Homo sapiens: one gene and its partners. The protein of the gene in region 5 purifies or fractionates together with the protein of the main gene of each other region. This does not show direct contact. Each region holds a gene or a part of one and is shown on either strand. Other genes may lie near its edges.

The links.
Region 1: the proteins of ICMT (region 5) and PPM1E purify together in Homo sapiens (affinity purification with mass spectrometry; one large-scale study listed by BioGRID and IntAct). This does not show direct contact.
Region 2: the proteins of ICMT (region 5) and RELL1 purify together in Homo sapiens (affinity purification with mass spectrometry; one large-scale study listed by BioGRID and IntAct). This does not show direct contact.
Region 3: the proteins of ICMT (region 5) and PCCA purify together in Homo sapiens (affinity purification with mass spectrometry; 2 studies listed by BioGRID and IntAct, with this or other methods). This does not show direct contact.
Region 4: the proteins of ICMT (region 5) and CLN6 purify together in Homo sapiens (co-immunoprecipitation; one large-scale study listed by IntAct). This does not show direct contact.

Annotation. Positions count from the first base shown.
Region 1 is NC_000017.11:58,982,854-58,988,173, reverse strand, and holds the end of PPM1E (protein phosphatase 1E), read right to left. Parts: 3' UTR 5,257-5,320; coding exon of another isoform or gene 5,253-5,256; 3' UTR 2,995-5,252; downstream 1-2,994. Other genes in the region: E3 ubiquitin-protein ligase TRIM37, read left to right, coding at 107-185. UniProt on the Homo sapiens protein: Protein phosphatase that inactivates multifunctional CaM kinases such as CAMK4 and CAMK2. Dephosphorylates and inactivates PAK. May play a role in the inhibition of actin fiber stress breakdown and in morphological changes driven by TNK2/CDC42.
Region 2 is NC_000004.12:37,682,375-37,689,080, forward strand, and holds the start of RELL1 (RELT-like protein 1 precursor), read right to left. Parts: upstream 4,003-6,706; 5' UTR 3,914-4,002; coding exon 3,826-3,913; intron 1-3,825. UniProt on the Homo sapiens protein: Induces activation of MAPK14/p38 cascade, when overexpressed. Induces apoptosis, when overexpressed.
Region 3 is NC_000013.11:100,091,349-100,097,342, reverse strand, and holds part of PCCA (propionyl-CoA carboxylase alpha chain, mitochondrial isoform a precursor), read right to left. Parts: intron 1-5,994. UniProt on the Homo sapiens protein: This is one of the 2 subunits of the biotin-dependent propionyl-CoA carboxylase (PCC), a mitochondrial enzyme involved in the catabolism of odd chain fatty acids, branched-chain amino acids isoleucine, threonine, methionine, and valine and other metabolites.
Region 4 is NC_000015.10:68,220,735-68,226,728, forward strand, and holds part of CLN6 (ceroid-lipofuscinosis neuronal protein 6), read right to left. Parts: intron 1-5,994.
Region 5 is NC_000001.11:6,228,237-6,234,230, reverse strand, and holds part of ICMT (protein-S-isoprenylcysteine O-methyltransferase), read left to right. Parts: intron 1-587; coding exon 588-757; intron 758-2,111; coding exon 2,112-2,329; intron 2,330-5,994. UniProt on the Homo sapiens protein: Catalyzes the post-translational methylation of isoprenylated C-terminal cysteine residues.

The DNA of each region.
Region 1 (5,320 bases), on a different chromosome or scaffold from region 5:
CATATTCTGCCTTCACCAATCATCACTTTTAGCTAGCCTATTCTTTCCAGTGTCTGTTTACAACGACCCTACGAAACTAGTGCTAATGTCTTCTCTCCCCTTGCAGGCAACTGCCCCTCTCCATTTGGTGCCACTTGGTTACTCTGCAACCTCAGCTTTCCAATGGATTCGAAAAAATGTCCTAATTTATAGTTCATCTGGCTCGTTTGCATTGTAAGAGTAGAAGAAATGCTCCTTCTACCCCTACATCCCGGAGTGGAAGCTGGAAGTGCTGTGATTTAAAAATGTATATATGTAAAACACACATTTTATTGAATGTAAAACATGAGTGTAATTAATCCTAAAACCAGAATTCAGAAAATGAGCCATTTTTAATTTTTTTATCTAGTTTTTTAAATGTTTGAATTATAAAGGTGATAAGATTAGAAAAATTTGGGAAATAGAAAACCCCAAGAGCTATTTTCTTTTTTGCATATTCATTTGAATTTTTATGTGGTAATATTTTTAGATTTCTCCTCATTCTACCTCTCATTCTCACATCTACCAATACATGCCTTCATAGTCTAGATTTATAGAAGTTTTAGAACTCTGCTTAGGGATGCTTAAGAGCAAATGGTAAGATTAGCCACAGTGTAGTTTGGGACATCAGTAGTACGGGCTGCTCTCTTTCTAAAATCCTTTTCTCTGGCTGGCATGTTGACCGGGAGTCTCCCTTCCATTCCTGCTCTGCAGACCCTGCGGGCCAGAGTCCTTGCCCGAGACCTTCAGGTCAGTCAGTGTCTCCTGGTGTGCATTTGGGAAAGGCTGCTGCATAGGCTCACCTCCCACTGGGTTTCATTTGACCTAGTGAACCCGTAGCAACTCGATTTGGCTTAATTGGCCACCCCTAATCCTGTAGCTGTCATACTACTCAATGTAATGACTAGCAGGGACAACTTTTTCATCATCTTTAGTTAAACTCCAGTTACTCATTTGGAAAATGGTTTCCCCAAATGTGTATCATTCTTGACAGTTTTTCACATTTGTTTCCCTGGTCCTAAAGCAAGATTATAAAAATCAAATAGAACCTGTGTGTGAGGGCCCTTGTTTGCACAATGAGGAGAGGACACACTTCATCTGGAGGTTGCGTGACTGGGGCAGCATCCTACAGCTCAGCATAAGAGGCAGGCTCAACCAACTGCCCAGGGAAGAGCGCTTCTTACTAAACATATTCAACAGTTGGGGCTCTCAGAAAAGAATGTGACTTGTTTTAAATGTAAGTAAGGGATCTTCCATAAGGTTATTCCTAGGCCAAGCAAAAGGAGGTTCCCTAAAGCACAATAGAAAAAGTGTTCTTTACTAATTGCTGTTAAGATGACAGATGGGGCTGGGCGTGGTGTCTCACACCTGTAAATCCCAGCACTTGGGGAGGCCAAGGCAGGCAGATCACTTGAGGTCAGGTGTTCAAGACCAGTCTGGCCAACATGGCAAAACCCCGTCTCTACTAAAAACACAAAAGCCAGGCGTGGTGGCCGACGCCTGTAATCCCAGCATCCTGGGAGGCTGAGGCACAAGAATTGCTTGAACCTGGGAGGCAGAGGTTGCAGTGAGCCGAGATTGCACCACTGCACTCCAGCCAGGGTGACACAGCAGGACTCTTGTCTCAAAAAAGAAAAAAAAAAAAAAAAAAGACAGATGGAAACTTGCAATCAAAAAGAAAATGATGCACTTAGGGAGGCCGAGGTGGGAGGGTGGATCATCTGAGGTCAGGAGTTCGAGACCAGCCTGGCCAACATGGTGAAACCCCACCTCCACTAATAATAATAAAATGAGCTGGGTGTGGTGGCGGGCGCCTGTAATCCCAGCTACTTGGGAGATTGAGGCAGGAAAATCGCTTGAACCTGGGAGGCAGAGGTTGTGGTGAGCCAAGATCACGTCACTGCACTCCGGCCTGGGTGACAGAATGAAACTCCATCTCAAAAGAAGGAAAGGAAATGATGCACACTGACAGCAACAGGGGGCGGGTGTGGGGGGGAATGCTCAGTTATGCAGCTTGTCAGTACAGACAGTTGTTTCTGATAATTTGGTAACTTGGGTAAATTTCTATGATGTTCAAATGATTTTACTGTACCTAGTGGTTCCCTTCTGTCTTGCTGTGTGCTGCTCCTTCAGAAAGAGGTGTTCCTTTTGATCTAAGTAATACTATATTTTAGGGAATTTTTTCAAGTGTAACACTTACTAATCAAAATGTTCCTTTTCTGTCATTCCCTGCTTCAGTAAACCCCTTCAAATATGTCCTTCTTTCAAAACTTCACCTTTTTTTTCTCAATTGTTCATTTGGTTCTATATAAAGTCATGCCAAGGACTGAATGAATTTAGGGAATTAGGAGTTGAAGATTTTTGAAACTATGTAAAATTAATTGTAAAGGCCTTCTTTACTGGTAGGCAGGAGAACAGTGCAGTGTATTGACAAGGTTGACTCGTTTGGAAGGTCAGTTCCCTCCCTTCAGATGCAGGTGTCGTAAGTGACTTCCCTCCCCCACATTGTCCTTTTTGTCTCTGTCTCCTTTTACTCACTTATCAGCAGTCCTTGGGAGGCTTTCCACCACAGCTCATCTGATGATTTCCTTACTTTCTTCTAGCTTGAAACTCAAAGAGGCTAAGCGAAAGGGGAAAGCTTGGTTAGATGCAGAGTTCTAAGAATGAAGTAGTTGGGAGATTTGATGACCACCGCTTAGTCCTTGGCAGGTCGGGTTCCTCTTTTCTTTTAGGATTATAACACCACTCCCTCTCCTCGCAGTTCAGCTAATGAAGAGAACATGTATAAGGCTAAATACCTCTCTTCTGGGGTAAAATAATGTTACAGCAGCATTTAGCAAATCTTCTTTTTAAATGTTCCAAGCTTCCAAACTTAACGTCCATCTCAGGATTTTATTTTCCAGTTCTGAAGAAATCTGCACAAATTTAAACAGTAAATAACTTACCTTTCCTTTAAATAAAAAGACAAATGACTAGTGGTTTTTAAATTGCCAGGTTTTATTAAGATAATTGGCAAAATTTCAACATACACCTTACCTGAATGAACACTTTTAATAAAATATGAAGGATCACTCATGACTACAACTGAACTCAAAAGTGAGATGTAGAGCAGATTTGTAAATTGATAAATTTATTTGGTAAGAAATTATTCACTTCATTCGCTTCACTCCATAGAGAATTCTTTGCAGAGAAATGTTATGAACAAGAGAACAAAGCCTGTCTCTCACCAAAGAGCACCTAGAGTAAGAGTTTACAATGATGTATCTGGATTATCTAATTCATCAAAGTTTATTTCCTTTTCAAAAACAACTGCTGTGTCAGTCTGGAGTTCCCTATTTCATGTTTTCTAATTATTACAATAAATAGTCTTCAAAATAGAAGATAAAATGCTGCTTTAAGAAGTAACAGTTATTTTTCAACACCATACCATTTGTCTGGAAAATCATTGTGTTGTAATACTGGTGGTATCTTACTTTGTTTTGCAAGAGACATTTAAGCTATTTGCAGATCAGAATAGAAGAGTGGGCATTTGTCCTTTAACATCACGTGATTTTCAAAGGTGAAAAAAATTTCTTTTGCTAACTTACGATTCAAAGAAAAATGGTCTCAAATTAAAGTGTGGACAAAACTGTAGTATTCCCTTTTATAGCCTTGCTTAGGTAAGAATGTTCACTGAGTGAATAAATTAGGTTTAAAAATTAAAACAATAATTTAGATCATTTTCCCACAAAGCCTTATCAAGGATTTGATGGGGAAGGAAGCACTTGAACCACAGCAGTTTTATCTGTAAACACTGAACTTGGCCATGCATCATTTTCATCTGCCCACTGGATGTTGCACTTCTCACTGGCACAGTGTTTCAACAGTGGAGTGTGGTTGTCATGAAAATGCAGTATTGACACTATACCACTATAAATGTGGTCAAAATTAGACTCAGTGTTGACATTGACATTGTTGCCATTGTCCTTGGAAAAGGTGTTACTTTCAAGGAGCCTCCTAAATGCAACAGTAACTTTAATCATAATAATTCAAGGACAATGGATGGCACTTCTAGGTAAAGAAAAGGTATATACATATGTGTTTCTACCCATCCTCTTTAGTACAGACCTAAATGGGATTAATAGCCCCAGTGTGTGTTGCTGTAATGTTGCCTAACCTCATGTCCCTCAAAAGTACACATCTAGAAAGTGAACAAAGGAAACCTGTAAATTAGGGACTGACTCCCTTTGAAACTCACAGTGAATGTACAAGGAGTTTGTAATGACTTCAGTTGGTGACCTGAAGTTTGTTTCCCTAACCAATATTACACTCTTGTTTGGATTTATTTTACTATTTCCTATTCTAACTTGTTTAGCAGGCAAACAGATTGATGCAGACCATGTTAAATTGAAAAAGGGATACTGCCACTCTTTAAGGATTGAGTGTAGAACTTTCACCACCACTAAATTACACAATGAATAAAAATACAAAACACATAATTCACAGACTATACCTCAGCATTAACAGTTTATAGATATTATATAGATACTTTTATATCTGTCTAATATTTTTACAATCACCAGGTACACCATCATTAAATACAAGTTACAGAAATATGTAGATACCATTAGTTAGAGGGTTACTTATTGCTTACGTCAGCAAGCAGCAAATAAGGGCACAGGATTTGAACTGAAGGGAACTACTTCCTATCACCAGTGGCGTTAAGAGAGAACACTGCATTTCACAAAGCACTGCTTTTATCTAGTTTATAGAACCAAGAGCAGCATATATCAGACCAATAACCACTATTTTAGTATGTATTATAGAATTTTAAAGGATTTACCTTACAAATGGTACCTAACTACTCTATAAATACGCATGTTGTGAACAAATGAATAGTTGCTATTTTTCACAATATTGGTTTATAACGACCACACTAGAACTACTTTGCTTTATTTTGTAGAGAGCTAATGGCATGAGAAATGAGTTAACACTGCTGTGTAGTCGGACCTACAAAATCCAGACCCCTAAAGATGGGTCTGTGTTTGTCCCAGTTCTATCCAGCCATTTTTTTCCCCACTGAGAAAGCCTAGCATGTGTAGTAACTTTTTCCCTTTACCCTCTTTATTCTGATCAAAAACATTACCAATAGACAACAATAGAAATTTTAAAAAGCTTTTTTTTTTACTTCGCTAAGCACTTTGGACTATAATGTGTACCAATAGTCTGCTGCCTTTGTTTTCTTGTTTTCTTAGATAATTTGATTTGAAACTGACACTGCACCTGATGGGTTAACAAGATCTAGGCTTCAGAAGGTGACAGA
Region 2 (6,706 bases), on a different chromosome or scaffold from region 5:
TTATACCAATGACAATTTAATTTATTCTTTTTGTCAGCTTTAAATCATTTCTCTATTGTTTCAATAAGTCATTAAACTTCAACATTAGGGCCAAAGAATCATTTTTAAAGAAACAATAAAATCTGTTGTTTGTTCACTTGGGGCTTTGGTCTCTCACATTCAAATTCAACTCTTCAAATTTCCAAATAGATTCATTTCATTTCCATTTTTAGAGGGGGTAGGGGCAGGGAATTGACAGAGACTTCTCACATTTTTCATTTCCTTTTAAAATTAAATGTAGATATGGACTCCCAAGCTCCAAGGTGTGCTTTTTCAAAACTTTCCAAACACTATATATTATGTGGATGTACAGCTTCGCAGCTACCTGGCTAAGAGAGACCCCAGAATTTAATAAAGCTTATCTTTAGTTTCTAAAAAGGAGTCAGAATGCTGGAGGGAAGCCTGCAGCCCAAGGACAATGCATTTTTCATCTCACCAGCCCCAGGACCTCTTCCACCCACTCCTTACTCGAGGGCTATGCCCACTGTCTGAGAGAGAAACTAATAAACCTGAAGGTTGAGTAACCAGAGAACTTAAGGACATTAATAAGCCAAGACGTGGAAAATCATCCCTTTGGGTGCTTGTGGTATATAGTTTCGAATGCTGCTGCTAAGAGACAAGTTTAATGAGATTCTTCTACTAGGAAGGAAGTGAAAAAGGCATTGCCACTACCCACCGTGAAGCTATCTGCCCTTCTTTTCTCTACTTGACAACTTCTGATAACCACATGCTTACAATTTTATGACGTTCTAAACTATCTTAGAATCTCAGCGAGATTGCAGAGGTTGACTCATATTCTATTTTTCCTCTGCAGAGCAGTGGGGTACAGTGGAAAGGGAATGAACTTTGGAATCAAGCAGGCTGGGTTATCCCAGATAAAGATACATATAAAGGTACACACATACACAGACACCTCCTAGTGGTTCTGCTTCTCTGAATGCTGACTGGCACAGTACCTATGTGATGTTCAGCCAGTTGTTTAACCTCTCTTGCCTCAGTTGCCTTACTGGAAGTAAGTATTTCACAGGGTTATGAGCAATGAGTTTAAAAATGCCTATGAAGGCTGGGCGCGGTGGCTCACACCTGTAATCCCTGCACTTTGGGAGGTCGAGAAGGGCGGATCACTTGAGGTCAGGAGTTACAAACCAGCATAGCCAACATGGGGAAGCCCCGATTCTACTAAAAAATACAAAAATTTGCCAGGCATGGTGGCGGGCGCCTATAATCCCAGCTACTAGGGAGGCTGAGGCAGGAGAATTGCTTGAGCCTGGGAGGTGGAGGTTGTAGTGAGCTGAGATCGCACCACTGCACCTCAGCCTGGGAGTCAGAGCAAGACTCTGTCTCAAAAAACAATAAAAATAAAAATAAATAAACAAATAAAAATGCGGCCGGGCGCGGTGGCTCACGCCTGTAATCCCAGCACTTTGGGAGGCCAAGGTGGGCGGATCACGAGGTCAGGAGATGGAGACCATCCTGGCTAACACGGTGAAACCCCGTCTCTACTAAAAATATAAAAAATTAGCCAGGCATGGTGGCGGGCGCCTGTAGTCCCAGCTACTCTGGAGGCTGAGGCAGGAGAATGGCGTGAACCCGGGAGGCGGAGCTTGCAGTGAGATCGCGCCACTGCACTCCAGCCTGGGCGACAGAGCAAGACTCCGTCTCAAAAAGAAAAAAATAAATAAAAATAAAAATGCATACAAAGTACTCAACCCAAAGCCTGGCACACAGCAGGCACTCAACAGTATTTCCCATTCCTTTCCCTCTACTTCCCTATGCTCAAGGTACAAACATTAACACCATCTTTGGTTGCAAGGGGATCAGATGTTGGCTGGTCAGAGCATCTTCTCTTTACACACGCCTCAAGATACTGGCAAATTTGTGCTCTGTATCCTTTCCTTTTTAGACACCTGTTTCTTCTTCCGCATTAATTTTCATCAAAAAAAAAAAAAGGCTGTCATGCAATTAGATGAGAGCTTTCATCAGTCACATTCTAGTCCTGAGACCTGGGTGTTGCTCAGAGGTCAAACCAAACACACACCCACTCTAGGGATGGATTTCTCCTGCTGATGATGGCTAATTACATGCATCATGTGCTGAATTTTTAATAATTTTACTCCCAGATTAAACTCTTCCCCAGATTCTGTTGCAACTGACTCTAACCCTCTAATGAATGTCTCCAACCTCACATCCAAGTGGAACCTGATTATGCACCTATGTGTCCCAGCAATCAAACGCAGGATGAAAATCAAAATGAACCAGCAGGGCATGGTGGCTCATGCCTGTAATACCAGCACTTTGGGAGGCCGAGGCAGGAGGATCACTTGAGGTCGGGAGTTCGAGACCAGCCTGGCCAATATGGCAAAACCCCATCTCTACTAAAAATACAAAAATTAGCCGGGCATGGTGGCACATGCCTGTAATCCCAGCTGCTCAGAAGGCTGAGGCAGGAGAATCACTTGAACCAGAGAGCTGGAGGTTGCAGTGAGCCGAGGTTGTGCCACTGCACTCCAGTCTGGGTGACAAAATGAGCCCCTGTATCAAAATAAGGAAAAGAAAAAAAAAATTGTCCCATCCAGTAAAACATGTCACTAGCTGCCATTTCCCCAGGTGGATGGCTAACGGAAATACGGGCCTGCTAAAAAGACTCAGGAGACAATATTATCCATCTCCTTCCCTTCCAACCTGCTCTGGTTTCTATGAAAAAGTGAAGGCCAAACTGCTAAGTCAGTGTAAAAGTTGTAAGCGACTGAAATGTTCTCAGGAGGAAGAGTTTATGGATGTTTATGGAGGAGACAGTCACTGTTGAAAGGCTTCCAGTTGCTTATTATTTGGGCCTGAGGAGGAACCACCGCTGAAATCAAGCTTGGAAGAGCTTGCTGACGTCAGATTCCCAGCTGTAGTAACCCCAAATGGCCAAGTAAGTATGTTTTTTTTTTAACTGCAGCTGTTAGGTGGCAATTAAGAGGGGAAGCGGTGGTAAGGAATCCCTAGTGTCTGTAATTATAAAAGCAAGGATGTGACATAGGACTTCCATAAAACTTACACCTCCTCTTAAGATTGATTTCAATTAAAAACTGCTTCATCGTTGGTGACACTTTAGCATCTCTGTTGGTGGCTTCCTGCCCTGACCACACAAGGTTCCTTTCGTGACGACAGGAATCAACAAAAAGAAGAAAAAAATGTAAGTTTACCAACGCGCCTTCCCTTTTTCCGAGCCTGATTTATACAGGATATATGGGAAGAAATGTGGACTCCTTGACCTGTTACAAGAATCCATCAACCACCCAAATAAATGGAAACGTGGAAAGAGATTCAAAGTCCTCCAGGTTTTAGGATATTTTAAGGTATTTAAAAGGGAGAAGGAGGCGCCGACAGCGCACCCGGTGCTCTGTGTCACGATCTTCCGCTCGCGGCGCCTTTGAGGACAAGGGCGGCGGGAAACGGGTCCGCGGGGTTCCGAGGCGAGCGGCCGTGGAGGAAGCGCCCCCGAAGAAGGCCTGGTCCCTACGCCCCGCACTGCCCAGCGCTGGGGAACACAGATCCTCGGAGGAGGCCCCAGGGAGGGAAGGCGGGAGCGGGGCCCGCGGGAGGGGAGGGACGGGAGCCGTTGCCACGCACCGCGCCCTGCCCGGACCGCCGCGGGACAGCCAGTTGTTCAGTGCCGGGATCCCGCGGCTGTGCCAGAAAGCAGGACGCCGCGGGGCTGCCGTCCCGACCCCTCGCTTCCTTCCGCGCTCCCGGGACCGGGCTCAGCACCCGGCGCCCCGGCTACGACCGGACACTCACCCGGAGCCACCAGCGGCGAACTCACGGCGCCTCCCACGAAGACAGCAGCGGCTAGGACGGCGGACCCCGGGAGTGCCCGCGGAGCCATCGCCGCGTCGCTTCGCCCTCCTCCCCCAGGGCGCCGCGTCCCGCGCTCGGGAAGGCAGAGCCGCTCCGGAGCCGGCGGGCTGATCGAGTGGCTGGGCTGGGCCCCAGGGAGCGGCGAACCCCGCCCCGCCATTGCCCCGCCCCACGCCACACCCACCTCGGCTCGGTCCCGCCTCTCCCCGCGCGCCCCGGGCTCCACCTAAGCCGGCACGAGGTCCACTCATGGCTCCGCCCCCGACTCCCCGCCCACCTCAGCCTGATCCCGCCTCTCCCTGCCATTCCCGCTTCCTTTCCAAACCCCGCAGCAGCCTCAGCGGCGTAGCTAGGCCATGGACACGCCCTCTTTCTCCACCCACCTCAGCTTGGCCCCGCCTCTCCCTACCGAGCCCCGGACTCCACCTAAGAAGGCACGTGGCCCATCCATGGCCCCGCCCTTTTCCCCACCCACAGCTCAGCCCGACCCCTCCTCTCCCGCTTCCTTTCCAAACCCAGCAGCAGCCTTGGCGGCGCAGTTAGGCTATAGCCCCGCCCTTGCGCCCTGCCCACCGTGGCCCGGCCGTGCCTCTACTTGCCAGGCCCGCTTCCTTTCCAAGCCGGGCCGGGATTACGCGGGAGCCCGGGGCGGGGGGAGGGTCGCCCGGGTGCAACCTCCCTCGGTCGCTGGGACTAGGCGGGCGTGGGAAGAGAAAGAGGGAGCGCGCCCCGAGAAGCACTGGACAGTCAGAAGCGGCCAGCACTGGAGTGAGCACAGGCTTTTTTCGCTGTTGGCATGTCTATCCACTAGCATTCCCCTCGGTTGCAGATCTAGGGAGTGATGCTGTGCTGGATGTCACGTTCTGTTGTTTGGAAATTAGCAGAAAAGATAACTTAAATTTCTTCCTCTGTTTGTTTGCATTTAAGCTGCTCCTATTGGGGAAAATACCTCTATGCATTTTCAGGAACAACTTGCCTTTTTTTTTTAATCGTGTGCTTGTATTGCACCTTGCGCATACTCCCGCAAAGTAGGTCTTTCAATGCCCAGACGCTTATTATCTCCTCACATCCTCACATCAGCTCTGCGAGGTGACTATTAGAGGCCAGGGAGTAAACCCACGATGTCTGGGCCACCATGATAAATTGTAATTATCTCATTGTCATTGTGTTTGCTCGCTGCTGTGCCCTCAGCGCCTGGATGGAGGACAGACAGCACACGCTAAGAGGTCAGAAGTGTTTTCTGAAGTTGAATCATCTTCACAAGCATTAATAGGACTCAGAGGCTCTCTCTGAATAGTTCCTTTTTACTGCCCTGTAGAGACTGTTGTTACTGGGCCATCAAGCATTTGCTTGAAGGAAATTAGGGCAGGACTTGAGCAAATACTCAACACCAGCAAGAAGAGGGGGTGCATGGAGGCTGTGGGTTTTCACAGGATGGGTCTCATCCTTGAGGTGACTGATAACCTCTAGTTTTCAGAGGACTATTTATTCTCTCACCGAGTCCTCCACGCAGTCTGCTGGACTATTATTACAAACATTGCATTGATGTGGGAATTGCCAGTGACAGAAGCTCAGGCCACTACAGTACAGATGGCTGAGGCTGAAGGATGGAGCCCCTGCCCTTTGAAGCCCAAGGAGGGCACTGCGCGTCCTGCGCTCAGTTGGCAGCGCATCCTACAGTCTGGCAGTCTTAGCAGGCAGCCTTTGCTAGTTTTATATCAACATAAACATTGAGAATGTGTGCGGAGGAAAGCGATCCATGTGGATTTCTAACTAAAACAGGAGAGAATCCCGGACCTAGAAATTAAACTATAAATTAGAAGTTGTAGCCAGAACCAGCTATAAAATTTGCAGGGCACAATGCAAAATGAAAAGGCAGGGCCTTCTGTTCAAAAATCGTTAAGAATTTCAAGATGGCAACAACACAACATTAAATCGATTGTGGAGCCCTCCTAAACACACAGTTGCACAGGTCACACACTTATAAAGCCAGCTCTGGTTTTGTAAGTTAGAATGTAACAAAATGCTTGAATCAAGAAATCTAATCAAAATGTAAAATGTCATTTCAAAATTGAATCATGTTTCACTCTTTTCCCACAGATTGGACTTAGTATTAAAAAGATGGGATCGTTTTTGGCTGGGCGCAGTAGCTCAAGCCTGTAATCCCAGCACTTTGGGAGGCCGAAGCAGGCAGATCACGAGGTCAGGAGATCGTAGACCATCCTGGCTAACACGGTGAAACCCCATCTGTACTAAAAATACAAAAAAGTAGCCAGGCGTGGTGGCGGGCGCCTGTAGTCCCAGCTACTCGGGAGGCTGAGGCAGGAGAATGGCGTGAACCCGGGAGGCGGAACTTGCAGTGAGCCGAGATTGTGCCACTGCACTGCAGCCTGGGCAACAGAGCGAGACTCCGTCTCAAAAGAAAAAAAGAAAAAAAAAAAAGAAAGACGGGATCATTTTTAACAACACATTTGAATTGTATATCTGTTATGGCTCTTCAAATATAAAAATCTAGTACTTAAGCCTTACCCATTATCTACCAGGCCCTTTGTTTTACAGATGAGAGATGGTTAAGTGATCTGCCTGACATATCTACTATGAGCCAGGGTTGAAACCCAGGGCTCTGAAATTTCTCTTCCTAAACTTTCCATAACACCTGCTTGACACACTCTCTATAAATGTCTTACTTTCACGTACCCCGTATACATGCATTTGTATGTCTTGTTAAAGGAATGAAGGAAGGGTAGGAGGAAGAGAGGGGGAGGGACGGAGGAAAGTGAAGAAGGGAAGGAGAGAGGAAAGAAAGAAAATCAAGCTTAAA
Region 3 (5,994 bases), on a different chromosome or scaffold from region 5:
AGGCATGGAACCATGATGGCTACTGATTCCAGGACATTTTTTATCACCCCAAAAAGACAACCCTTAACTATTCGCAGTCACTCCCATCCCCTCTCCTCCAGGCCCTGGGCAACCACTAATCTACTTTCTGTCTTCATGGATCAGTCTATTCTGGAGACTGCATATAAACACAAAATCACACAATAGCGACCTTGTGTGTCTACCCTTCAAAAGTCACTCTTAATTCCTTCCTTTCCCTGTTTGTACATACCTTACAGATACTGTAGGTTCAGGTCCAATTAATTATTGTTCAAAACAGTTATTGCTCAAAAATGCTAACAATCATCTGATCCTTCACCATGTTAGCCAGAATGGTCTCAATCTCTTGACCTTGTGATCCACTCGCCTCGGCCTCCCAAAGTACTGGGATTACAGGTGTGAACCACTGCGCCCGGCCTCACTTCTTTTCTTAAACCCCATGAACCAACCTCTGCTTCCAAGTTTTCTTCTGCAGCATCCTCACCTCTCTCAGCCTTCGCAGAACTGAAGCGAGGACCTTGCGCTGGATTAGGCTATGGCTTAAGGAAATGTTGTGGCTGGTTTGATCTTCTATCCAAACCACTAAAGCTTTCGCCATATCAGCAATAAAGCTGTTTCACTTTTTTTAATCAGTTGTGCGCTCACTGGAGTAGCACTTCTAATTTCCTTCCAGAACTTTTCCTTTGCATTTACAATTTGGCACAAGAGGCCCAACTTTCAGTCTATCTTGGCTTTTGACAGGCCTTCCTCACTAAGCTTAATGATTTCTAGTTTTTGATTCAAAGTGAGAGATGTGTGACTCTTCCTTTCACTAGAACGCTTAGAAGATTATTAATTGGCCTAATTTCAATATTGTTGTATCTCAGAGAATTAGGGAAGCCTGAGGAGAGGGAGAGACATAGGGGAATAACTGCTTGGAGAAGTCAAAACTCACACATTTATCAATTATGTTTCTCCAACTTATATGGGCGTGGTTCACGGCACCCCAAAATATTTACAATAAGAATATCGAAGATCACTGATCACAGATCACCATAACAGACATAGTAATAATGAAAAAATTATCAAAATGTTTCACAGAGACACCAAGTAAGTATGTGCTATTGGAAAGATGACACCAATACAGTTGCTCAAAGCAGGGTTGCCACAAACCCTCAATCTGTAAAAACAACAAAAAAAAAGCAGTATCTGCAGGGTCAATAAAGCCAAGATATGAGGTACATCTGTATCTGCCTTCAAACCCCACAGCAAGATACTGGCTCTAGCTCCAAAATACATTCCAAGTCTGACCAGTTCTCAGCAACTCCAGTGCCCTAGCACAAGTTACCATCATCTCTAGCTTGGTCTTCTACAACAGCTTCCTGATGGGTCTCTCTGTTTCCACTCTTCCCACCCCAGTCCCCAATCCTACTCCCACCCCTACTAAGACATTCGCTACGTACTAGTCACAAACGTCTTTTCCAAACATAAATTCAATGTGCTTAAATGCCTCCAACTGGACTCTCATTACTAAATTCCAAATACAAGCCCCTGATGACTCTGTCCCGCCTACCCACTCCTCCTCCCTCATCTCCTAAGATCACCCCCTCATTCAGTTCACTCCAACCACAGCAGCCACATTCATCCCTTAATTATGCCAAATGCAATCTCCCCTCAGAGCTTTTGCCCTGGCACTCCTTGGTCTGCAATGCTAGGCCCCCATATAGTCACATGGCTGGCTGGCTCAGTTTCCTGTCCAAATGCCACATGCTCAGAAATGTCCCCCATGGTCTCATTAGGTAACATCCCCAACTCAGCACCACTACCACTCTCTATCCCATTAACCTATCTTTTTCCTTCGAGAGCACTTCTCACTCTCTGAACTTTTCTATTTATACGAGCACAGTCTCCTTACTCAAATGTAACCACAATGGGAGCAGAAACAGTCACAATTATATTCCCAGCTCTAAGTAGTGTCTGACACATACTACGTGTAGGTGAATTGAACGATAGCCCCTAAAATGATGTGTCCACGTCCTGGAACCTGTGATAAAGTGTCTTTGCCAATACAACAAAGTGAAGGATCTTGAGATGAAATCATCCTAGATCTTGTCATGGCCCTAAATCCAATGAAAAGTGTCTTTATAAAAGAATGAGAGGGAAAGACGCACAAGAAGGAGGAGGAGAAGGCAGCCATGTGAAGACAGAGGCAGAGACTGGAGTGATGCAGCCACAAGCCAAGGAATGAATGCAGCCACCAGAAGCTCAAAGAGGCAAGAAAGGATTCTCCCCTAGAGCCTTCAGGCGAAGCATGGCCCTGCTCATGCCTTGATTTCAGACTTCAGGCCTTTAGTACTGTGGGAGAATGAATTTGTTGTTTTAAGCCACCAGGTCCATGGTCATTTGTACAGCAGCTCTAGGAAACCAAAGGTTTCTTGAATAAATAATACCAAAGAGAGGGCAGGCACGGTGGCTCACATCTGTAATCCCAGCACTTTGGGAGGCCGAGGCAGGCGGATCAATTGAGGTCAAGAGTTCAAGACCAGCCAGGCCGACATGGTGAAACCCCGTCTCTACTAAAAATATAAAAATTAGCTGGGCATGGTGGCACATGCCTGTAATCCCAGCTACTCAGGAGGCTGAGGCAGGAGAATCACTTGAACCCCGGAGGCGGAGGTTGCCGTGAGCGGAGATCACACCACTGAACTCCAGCCTGGACAACATGAGACTCTATCTCAAAAACAAACAAACAATACCAAAGAGAGTATGCCACATGGATGCTGTATTAGGTTTTGTGAATGAAATCACAAAACTGTATCTTCCAACATTCTTTAAATTCACTTTTATTTTGATCTTATTAGGTTGATCCCATCAGTTTGTGGGGTTTTTTCTAACGAAAATGTCAATAGGCATTTAAAATAAAGAAACTAATTTTTGAAAGTTATGCAATATGCTTATCTTTCAAAAAATATAATTTTGCTTCAACTATTCAAGAGTGTTGTCAAAAGCAGTATTTTTTGTATATAACACTTTACCATGCTACTAAAATTATTCTCATTAAAGATCAAAGATCTTTTCAAATTCTTTCACCAATCTTTTTTTTTTTTTTTTTTTTTTGAGACAGATTTTCGCTCTTGTTGCCCAGGCTGGAGTGCAGTGGTGCAATCTCGGCTCACTGCAACCTCCACCTCCTGGGTTCAAGTGATTCTCCTGCCTCAGCCTCCCAAGTAGCTGAGATTACAGGCATGCGCCACCATGCCCGGCTAATTTTGTATTTTTAGTAGAGACGGGATTTCTCCATGTTGGTCAGGCTGGTCTTGAACTCCCGACCTCAGGTGATCTGCCTGCCTCGGCCTCCCAAAGTGCTGGGATTACAGGCATGAGCCATCGTGCCCAGACTTTTTTTTGAGACAGGGTCTTGCTGTGTCACCCAGGCTGTAGTACATTGGTGTGATCACAGCTCACTGCAGCCTTGACCTCCTGGGCTCAAGTGATCCTCCCTCCTCAGCCTCCCAAGTACCTAGAACCACAGGCACGTGCCACCACACCCAGCTAATTTTTATTTTATTTTATTTTATTTTGTAGAGATAGCCGGGGGTGGGGGTGGTATCATTATGTTGCCTAGGCTGGTCTCAAACTCCTGAGCTCAAGAAATCCTCCCACTTTGGCCTCCCAAAGGGTTGAGATTGCAGGCGTGAGCTACCACACCTGGCCTCATCAATCTTTTATTCCTTAGCCTCTCTGCACCTGGGACATAGTTAGGGAATATGTTTTAATTTCTTTTTCTCTCCTCTGTACGTGCCATAGTACCTGGAACTTAGAAAATGCTCCACAAACACTTTCTGAGTAAAGAGCTAGATCTCTAGACAAATGAATGAATGAATGCTAACTACTTCTTGAAATTTCTTTCCTAGGTTTGGTAACACTACACTACATTGGCTCCTCTCAAACCATACCTCTAACTCCTCTTGTCTCTTCTTCCTTCTTCCAAATCCTAATTTAGGGTTATAAAACGAAGCATTTATTCAATTAAATATTAACTGACTCACTATATCCGTCAGGGCTCACAGTTCTAACTCTAACTCTAGCCTCGTATCCCTGGCCCAAAAGCCAGCCACTGATACCCAGCACCTCAGCATGGCTCCTGCGGGCATCTAACTCCAGATACCTACAATGAAACACTATGTTTCCAGCCCCACCAAAAAAGTGTTTCTTCCCAAATTCCTTTTTCATCCTTGTTCTCCCACCTACATTTTTTAAAGTTTGGAATCATTTAAACAAATCCTTTTCCCTCACTCTTCATCAAAAATGTCACATCTTTTCCTCTTAGAAAAGGACTAGAGCAGTTTTTACCTCTGTTCTGAACCTCTCAGGAACAGAATAAAATCCAAATGGTAGATGTATAAATATATAAATGTCTATAAACATTTTTTTACACCAGAAACTAGTTTCTGTAATAATCTCAGAAATTTCTTTTCCCAAATGATTTGTCAGAAATTTATCAGCATGTTGGAAACATTAACCTCCAGGCAATTCTAAAGCATTCATATAAGCCTAAACATTCTTTTCCATATTTACTGATTACAAAAGAAAATAATGGATGTCAAGTAACACAGGGCTTAAACATTCAAATTTCATGAATGCATCACACAATGAGACCATGATTCAAATGAGACAATTTGTAATTAGAAAAGCAAGCTGAGGTGGGTGGATTGCTTGAGTTCAGGAGTTTGAGACCAGCCTGGGCAACATAGCAAAACCCCATCTCTACAAAAAATAAAAATTAAAATTAAAAAATAGCCAGGTGTGGTCGTACGTGCCTGTGGTCCCACCTACTTGGGAGGCTGAGATGGGAGGATGGCTTGAGCCCAGGAGGCAGAGGCTGCAGTAGGCCAAGATCATGCCACTGCACTCCAGCCTGGCCAACAGAGCCAGACCCCATCTCAAAAAAAAAAAAGGAAGAAAGAAAAGAAAGCCTTCAGAATCATATTATCTAAGGTTCAAATTCTACTTCAGCCAATTGTGCTTTTAAGCAACTACTTAACTGCCCTGAGCTTTGTTTCCTCTACTGTAAAATTGGGATTTTTTACCTAGTTGTTATAAGGATAAAAGATATATGAAAAATCACACCATTGGGCTCGGTGGCTCATGCCTGTAATTCCAAGCACTTTGGGAGGCCAAGGCAGTGGATCAAGAGGTCAGAAGATCGAGGTGGCCAACATGGTGAAACCCCATCTCTACTAAAATACAAAAAAAAATTAGCCGGTGGTGGTGGCGTGCGCCTGTAGTCCCAGCCACTTGGGAGGCTGAGGCAAGGGAATCACTTGAACCCAGGAGGTGGAGGTTACAGTGAGCTGAGATCGCGCCACTGCACTCCAGCCTGGCAACAGAGCGAGACCCCATCTCAAAAAAAAAGAAAAGCAAAGAAAAATCATGCAAGGCATATAAGAGTTCAATAATAACTATAGCAATTACCATAAAACCAACATCCTAGAGCCACTGAAAACATTTACGCAGAAGAAAAAACTAGGCATTAAAACAGAATGTGCTTAAAAAGCTGATACACAAAACAAATAAGACTAAAAGGTGAACTCTACATATACCCTAAAAATAAATAAACTCTGTTGACTGGCTAAAAGAATGGTCAGAATTCTCTAGACTAGACCCTAGAGTTAGCTGGCTGCTTTTCAACCAACCAAAAGGTTTGCAGAGGTGGAGGGAGGGATGGGAGGGGTTAAAATCTTCAAAAGATTCAGCTTCAAACAGACTCAGTAGAGCATATTTCAAGTTCATAGAAGAGAAGCGCAGAGAGAAGCTAAGCAGCAGCTCAAGTTCCCCTAGAGTGATAGTGAACTTCAGAGATGCTTCCCACCCCAAGGAGGAATTCTTTACCGGCACAAACATAATGCTACTCTATTGTTACACATTCAGCACCTATTGTGTCAAACATTGTACTAAGAACACAGAAATAGACAAGATGCAGTCTCTGCCAACACA
Region 4 (5,994 bases), on a different chromosome or scaffold from region 5:
TTCTGTCACTTGCAACCCAGTCGTCCTGAATAACACACACAATTCAAACCTGGGTTTATGTTAATTCAAGACCTGTGCTCTTAATAGCTTGCTATTCTGTTTTTTTGTTTTGTTTTTTGGAGACAGGGTCACCTAGGCTGGAGTACAGTGGTGTGATCACAGCTCACTGCAGCCTTGGCCTCCCAGGCTCAAGCATTCCTTCCACCTCAGTCTCCTGAGTAACTGGGACCACAGGTGCATGCCACTATGCCCAGCTAATTTTATTTTATTATTATTATTATTATTATTATTATTTTTTGTAGAGATGAGGTCTCACTATGTTGCCCAGGCTGGCCTCAAATTCCTGGGCTCAATAATCAACCCACATCAGCCATCCATAGTGCTGGGATTACAGCTGTGAGCCACCATGTCTGGCCAACAGCTTGCTATTCTGTTTTTGATTACTAGGCTTATCAGGAGATCAGGTTAGAAAGGGATCTCCCTCCCCCCTCCCCCAACCCTCCCCCTCTCCCTCGCTTCTTCCTTCTCCCTCTGTTGCTGAGGCTGGACTGTACTGCCGTGATCTCAGCTCCCTGCAACCTCCCTGCCTCGGGCTCCCGTGATTCTCCTGCCTCGGCCTGCCGAGTGCCTGGGATCGCAGGCACACGCCGCCACACCTGACTGGTTTTTGTATTTTTGGTGGAGACGGGGTTTCGCCGTGTTGACCAGGCTGGTCTCCAGCTCTTGACCTCGAGTGATCTGCCCGCCTCGGCCTCCCGAGGTGCTGGGATTGCAGACGGAGTCTCGCTCACTCAATGCTCAATGTTGCCCAGGCTGGAGTGCAGTGGCGTGATCTCGGCTCGCTACAACCTCCACCTCCCAGCCGCCTGCCTTGGCCTCCAAAAGTGCTAAGATTACAGGCTCTGCCCGGCCGCCACCCCATCTAGGAAGTGAGGAGCGTCTCTGCCTGGCCGCCCATCGTCTGGGATGTGAGGAGCCCCTCTGCCCGGCCACCCCATCTGGGAGGTGAGAAGCGCCTCTGCCCAGCTGCCCATCGTCTGGGATGTGAGGAGCGCCTCTGCCCGGCCGCCCCGTCTGGGAAGTGAGGAGCGCCTCTGCCCAGCTGCCCCGTCTAGGAAGTGAGGAGCGCCTCTGCCTGGCTGCCCATCGTCTGGGATGTGAGGAGCGCCTCTGCCCGGCCGCCCCGTCTGGGAAGTGAGGAGCGCCTCTGCCCAGCTGCCCCGTCTGGGAAGTGAGGAGCCCCTCTGCCCGGCTGCCCTGTCTGGGAGGTGAGAAGCGCCTCTGCCCGGCTGCCCATCGTCTGGGATGTGAGGAGCGCCTCTGCCCGGCCACCCCGTCTGGGAAGTAAGGAGCCCCTCTGCCCGGCCGCCCCGTCTGGGATGTGAGGAGCCCTTCTGCCCGGCCGCCCCGTCTGGGAGGTGAGGAGCCCCTCTGCCCGGCCGCCCCATCTGGGAGGTGAGGAGCACCTCTGCCCAGCCGCCCCGTCTGGGAGGTTAGGAGCCCTTCTGCCTGGCCGCCCCATCTGGGAAGTGAGGAGCACCTCTGCCTGGCCGCCACCCCGTCTAGGAAGTGAGGAGCGCCTCTGCCTGGCTGCCCATCGTCTGTCTGGGAGGTGAGAAGCGCCTCTGCCCGGCCGCCCCGTCTGGGAGGTGAGGAGCGTCTCTGCCCGGCTGCCCATCGTCTGGGATGTGAGGAGCGCCTCTGCCCGGCCGCCCCGTCTGGGAGGTGAGGAGCGCCTCTGCCCGGCCGCCCCGTCTGGGAGGTGTGGAGCACCTCTGCCTGGCCGCCCCGTCTGGGAAGTGAGGAGCGCCTCTGCCCAGCCGCCCCGTCTGGGAAGTGAGAAGTGCCTCTGCCCGGCCGCCCGGTCTGGGAGGTGTACCCAACAGCTCCGAAGAGACAGCGACCATTGAGAATGGGCCATGATGACGATGGCAGTTTTGTCAAAAAGAAAAGGGGGAAATGTGGGGAAAAGAAAGAGAGATCAGATTGTTACTGTGTCTGTGTAGAAAGAAGTAGACATAGGAGACTCCATTTTGTTCTGTACTAAGAAAAATTCTTCTGCCTTGGGATGCTGTTAGTCTATAACCTTACCCCCAACCCCGTGCTCTCTGAAACATGTGCTGTGTCCACTCAGGGTTAAATGGATTAAGGGTGGTGCAAGATGTGCTTTGTTAAACAGATGCTTGAAGGCAGCATGCTCGTTAAGAGTCATCACCACTCCCTAATCTCAAGTACCCAGGGACATAAACACTGAGGAAGGCTGCAGGGTCCTCTGCCTAGGAAAACCAGAGACCTTTGTTCACGTGTTTATCTGCTGACCTTCTCTCCACTATTATCCTATGACCCTGCCACATCCCCCTCTCTGAGAAACACCCAAGAATGATCAATAAATACTGAAAAAAAAAAAGAAAAGGATCAGCGTGGCCTAGGGCAATACACAAAGCTTGCATGAGGGAAGGGAGCCTCAAAGCACGGATGGATGAATCTAACTAGGCAGAAAAGCAGGAAAGCAGGGTAAAGGCCTGGAGGTGGAAGTGAAGAAGGTTCTGCATGGAGCTGAGATGCCTGGCTTACTGGAGCCAGAGAAAGAGAAGGGACGGGCGGCTCGATCTTCAGACTGGACAGATAGCCAGTAACCCTGAGGACTGCTCAGTGGTCTGAGACGAGTGACCAACACAGAGGCCCCACCCAGCTCCTTCCTCAGTAGCCATCAGGGTAAGGCCTCAAAAAGCAGAGAGTGATAACCTCCAGGCCCAGAGAACTTGGGTGGCGAAAGAGGTAACAGCCTTCAGTTTCTTGCTCTGATACCTCCAAACTTGGCAAAAAGTAGGATGTTCGGTACGAGGAATAAAGGGATTTTGGAAGCATGAACACTTAGATGTGTGTATCTGGAAGTTATGTGTACCCAGCATACACTAGAGGCTCAGTGACTACCTCCTCCTCCACCTCAGGAAGCACCTTGGTCAATGAGAATCCCTGTCATTAGTCCAGCCTAACTTAGTAGGACAGGAAAAAAAAAAAAAGAGGGGGGCTGGGCCCAGTGGCTCATGCCTGTACTCCCAGCATTTTGGGAGGCTGAGGTGTACAGATCACCTGAGGTCAGGAGTTCGAGACCAGCCTGGCCAACACAGTGAAACCCTGTCTCTATATAAAAATACTAAATTAGCCAGGCTTGGTGGTGTGCGCCTGTAATCCCAGCTACTTGGGAGGCTGAGGCAGGACAATCACTTAAACCTGGGAGGCGGAGGTTGCAGTGAGCCAGGATCACGCCATTGCACTCCAGCCTGGGCAGTAAGAGTGAAACTGTCTCAAAAAGAAAACAACAACAACAACAACAACAACAAAAAACAACTCTAAAAAATTAAAAATTAAAAATTAAAAATTAACTGGGTATGGTGGCACACATCTGTAGTTCCAGCTACTCAGGAGGCAGAAACAGGATGATCACTTAAGCCTGGGAGGTCAAGGCTGCAGTGAGCTATGACCGTACCACTGCACTTTAGCCTGGGTGACAGAGTAAGACCTTATTGCAAAAAAAAAAAAAAAAAAAAAAAAAGCAGGCACACAGAGTGGACACTCAGCAACCAGCTTGCAAATCAAGATTAGACTGGGCACAGTGGCTCATGCCTGTAATCCCAGCAGTTTGGGAGGGTGAGCTGGGCAGATCACATGAGGCCAGGCATTCAAGACCAGCCTGACCAACATGACGAAACTCCGTCTCTACTAAAAATACAAAAATTAGCCCAGCATGGTGGTGCACACCTGTAATCTCAGCTACTGGGGAGGCTGAGGCATGAGAATTGCTTGAACCTCACAGGCAGAGGTTGCAGTGAGCTGAGATGGCACCACTGCACTGCCTGGGCAATACAAAAAGACTCTGTCTCAAAAAAAAAAAAAAAAAAAAAGATTAATCAGCACCTGCCTGGTTTTCTTCTCCTGGAACTCTGCCCACGGGAGGCAGATCATGGAATGGTAAAGGCATCCTCTCCCCCAGCTCATGTCCTGAGGATGAGCAACCTCAACCCTGTCCCAAGTTCCTGGCTCCACAGACTTAGCACACTGAGCCCCCAGCCTGTGCCAGCTAGGTCTCAATCACTAGCAAATGCTGCTGAAAACAATGGTGATGGCACAATGGCAGATAACCTGAAACAAGGTTAGACTCTTCTCTCCTTCCCAGCTTTCCAAGTCTACCATATGGGGACAATGACACCACGACAGTTGAGGAGTGCATGCCATACACTTAAAATCCTCAAGGCAGTCAGCAGCATCTGCAGGGCTGCCTGGCAGAAAAGGAAGGGGTTTCATCCTGAACAAGTCAAGCGGTAACCCACAAATGGGGACCACAGAGAGACTAATTTTGCTTCTATTTAAAGAATGGTGACATACAAGACAATGAAAAGCTTGAACAGAAAAAAAACTAAGGAAATGAAGGCAAATATAATGAGAGAATAAAGAAAGGCAACTAGAAACTCCAAGAAAAACAAAAGTAACATAAGAAAGCAAATGTAACTGTTAAACATTATTTGGCTCTGTTGGAACAATATTTATTAAATACATGGCTTAAATAACATACACATTTTATATTAATTTTCAATGTTTAGAGTCAATCCACAGATAAAACATGGAAGATAATTACGGTTTTAAAGCAGCAGATAATTATAGTCTACTTTGATAACATGAAAACAGAGGACAGAAATTGTAGGAAGGGGTGAGGAAAGCTAAAGTTTAGGGTAGGGGACTAATATCATCTTTTTATTTTAGTTTTGGAGACAAGGTCTTGCTCTGTCACCCAGGCTGGAGTGCAGTGACACAGTCATGGCTCATTGCAGCCTTGACCTCCCAGGCTCAAGCAATCCTCCCATCTCAGCCTCCTGAGTAGCTGGGACCACAGAAAGGCATGTGCTGTCACACATGGCTAATTTTTAAAATTTTTCCTTTTTTCTAAAAGGAATCAAAGGCTGGGCGCAGTGGCTCATGCCTGTAATCCCAGTACTTTGGGAGGCCAAGGCAGGTGGATCACCTGAGGTCAGGAGTTAGAGACCAGCCTGGCCAACACGGTGAAACGTCATCTCTACTAAAAATACAAAAATTAGATGGGCGTGATGGTGGGCACCTGTAATCCCAGCTACTCGGGAGGCTGAGGCAGAATTGCTTGAACTCTGGAGGTGGAGGTTGCAGTGAGCCAAGATGGCACCACTGCACTCTAGCCTAGGGGACAAGAGTGAAACTCCATCTCAAAAAAAGAATAAAATAAAATAAACCAAGAAATAGCAGTTGAGTGTAGTTTTTAAGAGTGTGGACTTGGCTGGGCGCGGTGGCTCAGGCCTGTAATCCCAGCACTTTGGGAGGCTGAGGCGGGTGAATCACAAAGTCAGAAGTTTGAGACCAGCCTGGCCAACATGGTGAAACGCCGTCTCTACTAAAAATACAAAAAATTAGCTGGGCGTGGTGCCGAGCACCTGTAATCCCAGCTACTTGGGAGGCTGAGGCAGGAGAATCGCTTGAACCCGGGAGGCGGAGATTGCAGTGAGCTGAGATCATGCCACTGCACTCCAGCCTGGGTAACAGTGTGAGACTCCATCTCAAAAAAAAAAAAAAAAAAGAGTCTGGACTTTGGAGACTGTTTGGGTTCATATCCCAGCTCTGCCACTAACCAGATCTTGAGCAAGTCACTTAACTTCTTGGGCCTTAATGTCCTCATTTGTAAAATGGAGATAATAGTAGATCCTATCCCTTTTTTTTCTTTTTTGAGACGGAGTCTCACTCTTGTTGCCCAGGCTGGAGTATAATGGCGCGATCTTGGCCCACCGCAACCTCCGCCTCCTGAGTTCAAGTAATTCTCCTGCCTCAGCCTCCCGAGTAGCTGGGACTACATGCGCATGACACCATGCCTGGCTAATTTTTGTATTTTTAGTAGAGACAGGGTTTCTCCATGTTGGTCAGGCTGGTCTTGAACTCCTGACCTCCTGATCCGCCCATCTCGGCCTCCCAAAG
Region 5 (5,994 bases):
TAATGCCTCTGTGACCTATGGGTTTGTTTTGCCTGTGACATTCAAAAACAGTCCCTTGCCGGGCGCGGTGGCTCACGCCTGTAATCCCAGCACTTTAGGAGGCCGAGGTGGGCAGATCACGAGGTCAGGAGTTCAAGACCAGCCTGGCCAAGCCAGGAGTTCGAGACCAGCCTTGCCAACATAGCGAAACCCTGTCTCTACTAAAAATACAAAAATGAACTGGGCGTGGTGGTGGGCACCTGTAGTCTGAGCTACTTGAGAGGCTGAGGCAGGAGAATCGCTTGAACCTGGGAGGCGGAGGTTGCAGTGAGCTGAGATCACGCAGTTGCATTCCAGCCTGGGCGACACAGCGAGACTCTGTCTCAAACAAAACAAAACAAAACACCAGAAACAAAAACAGCCCCTTAAAAACTCCACTTTTTGCAAACCTGAGGTAGTAGATGCTGCAGATGGGTACCTGTGTCCACTCTCAGACAGGTGAGAACAGGGCCTCATAGACTTAGGGACAGCTCAGGAGACCCAGATGTGCACTTATGGTTAACTTGGTTCTCTTGTCCCAACTTAACTCTCTTTTTGTCTTTAAATAGGTACATGTGCTCCCTGTCATTGTTCCACTATTCTGAATACTTGGTGACAGCAGTCAATAATCCCAAAAGTCTGTCCTTGGATTCCTTTCTCCTGAATCACAGCCTGGAGTATACAGTAGCTGCTCTTTCTTCTTGGTTAGAGTTCACACTTGAAAATATCTTTTGGCCAGGTTCGTGTGCCTTATGTCCCCCTCTGGAGGGGAAAAGGGTGGCTCCCATTCAGGCTGAGGACAGTGACATTGATTCACCTTTCAGGTCTAATCTCCCCCAAGCGATTTTCCGCAGACCTCTATCCTCACTAAGCTATTTATAAAGGATGAGCTCCGCTCATGAATTCTGCCTCTGGATATTGACTCGAGGACGTGCTGACCTTTTGCTTTAAAGTTTGCATCACATAGTGCACCATCTAATTTGAAGCCCCAACCTTGAGTAGTTGTGATTCTAATTTTATAATCAGATGATATTTAGACGTTTCATGTAAGAGTTTACTGGCCGGGCACGGTGGCGAACGCCTGTAATCCCAGCACTTTGGGAGGTCGAGGCGGGTGGATCACAAGGTCAGGAGTTCGAGACCAGCCTGGCCAATATGGTGAAACCCCGTCTCTACTAAAAATACAAAAAAGCCAGGCGTAGTGGCACATGCCTGTAATCCCAGCTACTCGGGAGGCTGAGGCAGGAGAACTGCTTGAATCCGGGAGGCGGAGGTTGCAGTGAGCCGTGATCGCGCCACTGCACTCCAGCCTGGGTGACAGAGCGAGACTCCCATCTCAAAAAAAAAAAAAGAGTTTACTAACAAGGTCGGGTGCAGTGGCTCACGCCTTTAATCCCAGCACTTTGGGAGGCCGAGGTGGGTGGATCACATGAGGTCAGGAGTTTGAAACCAGCCTGACCAGCATGGTAAAACCCCGTCTCTACGAAAAATACAAAATTAGCCGGGCCTGGTAGTGCATGCCTGTAATTCTAGCTACTTGGGAGGCTGAGGCAGGAGAATTGCTTGAACCCAGGAGATGGAGGTTGCAGTGAGCTGAGATTGTGCCATTGCACTCCAGCCTGGGCAATGAGAGTGAAACTCCGTCTCAAAAAATAAAAGCCTCCGTATGTGGAATGCACTCTGAAATTGAATGTCTCACAGCCAATGAAATGAAATACATGTGGCTCCTGGGATTCAGGGTGGAAACCTTGGACCCTTTTTTGCTTCTCTTAGCTATACTTGTCCCCAGATGAAGGACTGAGCATGTGGCCGGGGGTCGTGAACCAGAGAGCCCATCAGCTGTAGCAGGAGAGCATCTCTTTACCATGATGCTTTCATTGTGCTTATTGGTGTTTTAAAGTAAATTGATGAACAGCATAACTTAGGGGAATGTGTTTTCTTATGAAATTTTAATGTGATGACAAATGCTGATTGCCCAGCAGCACATTTTCTGTTTCTGTCTTCGGGAAAATAGGTTAATTTTAAGCAGTGCGAAGGGGAGCTCAGGCCAGTGTTTTCACTCCCCGTGTGTCGTTGATGTCTCTCTCCCACAGAACTGAAGCAGATTACCTGGCTCAGTGTCACAGGGCTGCTGATGGTGGTCTTCGGAGAATGTCTGAGGAAGGCGGCCATGTTTACAGCTGGCTCCAATTTCAACCACGTGGTACAGAATGAAAAATCAGATACACATACTCTGGTGACCAGTGGAGTGTACGCTTGGTTTCGGCATCCTTCTTACGTCGGGTGGTTTTACTGGAGTATTGGAACTCAGGTATAATATTAAATATGACACTGCTTTTCTTTTTTTTTTTTTTAAGTAACATTTTAAACGTGATATTCACGTAGCATAAAAGTCACCATTTCAAAATATACAATTAGTGGTTTTCAGTGTATTCATGAGGTTGTTGGTCTCCTTTAAATAATAGGTACATGTTCTTCTTGGCGCGTTTCAAGTGATAATTTAATAAAAGTCAAGAGAACTAATGTAGTCCTTAATGCTTTTCACTATGTGCCCAGAACCTGGGTGCGTAAGTCCTTGGTGATTCTTGGTGCTGTTAGCTACCTGCTGTATCCCTTCATCCTGTTTCTGCCTCTGTTTGTTTGTTTTCTTTTTTCTTTTTTTTTTTTTGGTAGAGACAGGGTCTTACTGTGTTGCCTGGGCAGGTCTCAAACTCTTGGCCTTAAGTGATCCTCCCACCTCAGCCTCGCAAAGTGCTAGCATTATAGGCATGAGCCATTGTGCCTCTCCCTTTCTCTGCCCCTTCAACCTATTAATAGATCTGAAGCACCCCAGAGGGGGTGAGGACAGAGATGGGGCTTAGGGAAGGGAGTGCCCTCTGTCACTCATGTGGCAGCTTGGCTAGTTTTCATCAGAAATAGGTATTAATGGGGCCGAGGCCATGTGTTAGTGAGCTGTGTGAGCCATGGAGGTTTGTTCTGTCTCAGGCTGAAGAAAAGGCCTTGTTTCGTTTCTTTTCTTTTCTTTCTTTCTTTTTTTTTTTTGAGACCTAGTCTTGCTCTGTTGACCAGGCCAGAGTGCAGTGGTGCGATCTTGGTTCACTGCAACCTCTGCCTCCCAAGTAGCTGGAACTGTAGGCACGAACCACCATGCCTGACTACTTTTCGTATTTTTTTTGTAGAGACAGGGTTTCTCGAGTTGCCCAGAGCCATCTTGAACTACTGAGCTCAAGCAGTCTGCCTTCCTGGGCCTCTCAAAGTGCTGGGATTACAGGCTTGAGCTACAGTGCCTGGCCTTTTTTTTTTTTTTTTCCTTTTTGAGATGGAGTCTCACTCTGTTGCCCTGTTGCCCAGGCTGGAGTGCAGTGGCATGATCTCAGGTCACTGCAACCTCTGCCTCCCAGGTTCAAGCGATTCTCTTGCTTCAGCCTCCTGAGTAGCTGGGACTACAGGCGCCCGCCACCACACCCGGCTAATTGTTTGTATTTTTAGTAGAGATGAGGTTTGACTGTGTTAGCCAGGATGGTCTTGATCTCCTGACCTCATGATCTGCCCGCCTCGGCCTCCCAAAGTGCTGGGATTATAGGCATGAGCCACCGTGCCCAGCTTTTTTTTTTTTTTTTTTTTTTAAAGACAGGATCTTGCTGTGTTGCCCAGCCTGGAGTGCAGTGTTCTGATCATGGCTCACTGCAGCCTTGACCTCCTGAGCTCAAGTGATCCTCCTACCTCAGCCTCCCAAGTAGCTGGAATACATTACAGGTGTTGCCACCACGTCCGGCTAATTTTTAAATTTTTTGTAGAGGTGGTTCTCCTGGACGGTTGCCTGTAATCCCAGCACTTTGAGAGGCTGAAGTGGGTGGGTCACTTGACATCAGGAGTTTGAGACAAGCCTAGCCAACATGGCAAAACCCCATCTCTATTAAAAATACAAAAATTAGTTGGGCCTGGTGGCACATGCCTATAGTCTCAGCTACTCGGGAGGCTGAGACCTGAGAACCGCTTGAACCTGGGAGGTGGAGGTTGCAGTGAGCTGAGATTGTGCCACTGCACTCCAGCCTGGGTGATGGAGTGAGACTCTGTCTCAAAAAAAAAAGAGATGGTTCCTCCTTTGTTGCCCATGCTGGTCTTGAACTCCTGGGCTCAAGCCATCCTCCTACCTTGGCCTTCTAAAGTGCTGGGATTAGGCCAGGCATGGTGGTTCTTACTTATAATTCCAGCTAGTCGAGAGACTGAGGCACAATATTTGCTTGAACCTGGGAGGCAGAGGTTGCAGTGAGCTGAGATCACGCCACTGCACTCCAGCCAGGGTGACACAGCAAGAATCTGTCTCAAAAAGAAAAAAAGAAAAAGAAGTGTAAGGATTATAGGTGTGAGCCACTGCACCTGCTCTATGTGTGTGTGTGTGTGTGTGTGTGTGTGTGTGTGTGTGTGTATTTTTTTTATTTATGTATGGTTTTTTGTTTTGTTTTGAGGCAGGGTCTCTCACCCAGGCTATAGTGCATTGGCATGATCATGGTTTACTGCAGCCTCTACCTCTTGGGCTCAAGTGATCCTCCCACCTTAGTCTCCTAAGTATCTGCCCAGGCTGGAGTGCGGTGTCACAATCTCGGCTCATTGCAACCTCCGCCTCCCGGGTTTGAGTGATTCTCCTGCCTCAGCCTTCTAAGTAGCTGAAACTACAGATGTGTGTCATCACACCTGGCTAATTTTTGTATTTTTTAATTAATTTATTTTTTTGAGATGGAGTTTCACTCTTGTTGCCCAGGCTGGAGTGCAATCATGTGATCTCAGCTCACTGCAACCTCTGCCTCCCGGGTTCAAGCGATTCTCCTGCCTCAGCCTCCTGAGTAGCTGGGATTACAGGCATGCGCCACCATACCCGGCTAATTTTGTATTTTTAGTAGAGACGGGGTTTCTCCATGTTGGTCAGGCTGTTCTCGAACTCCCAACCTCAGGTGATCTGCCTGCCTTGGCCTCCCAAAGCGTTGGGATTACAGACATGAGCCACCATGCCCAGCCCCTGGCTAATTTTTGTATTTTTGTAGAGACGGGGTTTTTCCATGTTGCCTAGGCTGGCCTCGAACTCCTGCGGTTGAGTGATCTACCCGCCTCGGCCTCTCAAAGTGCTGGGATTACAGGCGTGAGCCACCACATGTATTTCTTTTTCTTTCTTTTTTTTTTTTGAGACAGAGTCTCACTTTGTCGCCCAGGCTGGAGTGCAGTGGTGCGATCTTGGCTCACTGCAACCTCCACCTCCCGGGTTCAAGTGAGTCTCCTGCCTCAGCCCCCGCGAGTAGCTGGGATTACAGTTGTGCACTACCTCGCCCAGCTAATTTTTTGTATTTTTAGTAGGTTTAGTAGGGGTTTCACTGTGTTGGCCAGGCGGTTCTCAAACTCCTGACCTCAGATGATCCACCCGCTTCAGCCTCCCAAAGTGCTGGGATTACAGGCGTGAGCCACTGCATCCAACCCGCATATTTCTTTTTTAAAATTACTATTTGGCTAGGCACAGTGGCTTTGGGAGACCAGAGCAGGAGGATTGCTTGAGGCCAGGAATTAGAAACCAGCTTGGCTGGCCGGGCATGGTGGCTCATGCCTGTAATCCCAGCACTTTGGGAGGCTGAGGCAGGCAGATCATGAGGTCAGGAGATCAAGACCATCCTGGCTAACACAGTGAAGCCTCATCTCTACTAAAAATACAAACAATTAGCCTGGTGTGGTGGCACGCATCTGTAGTCCCAGCTACTTGGGAGGCTGAGGCAGGAGAATGGCGTGAACCCGGGAGGCGGAGCTTGCAGTGAGCCGAGATCGCGCCACCGTACTCCAGCCTGGGCGACAGAGCGAGACTCCATCTCAAAAAAAAAAAAGAAAAAGAAACCAGCTTGGCCAACATAGTGAGAACCCTTCTCTCCAGAGGAAAAAACTAAAAATATATCTGGAAGTTGTAGTGTGCACCTGTAGTCCCAGCTACTCAGGAGG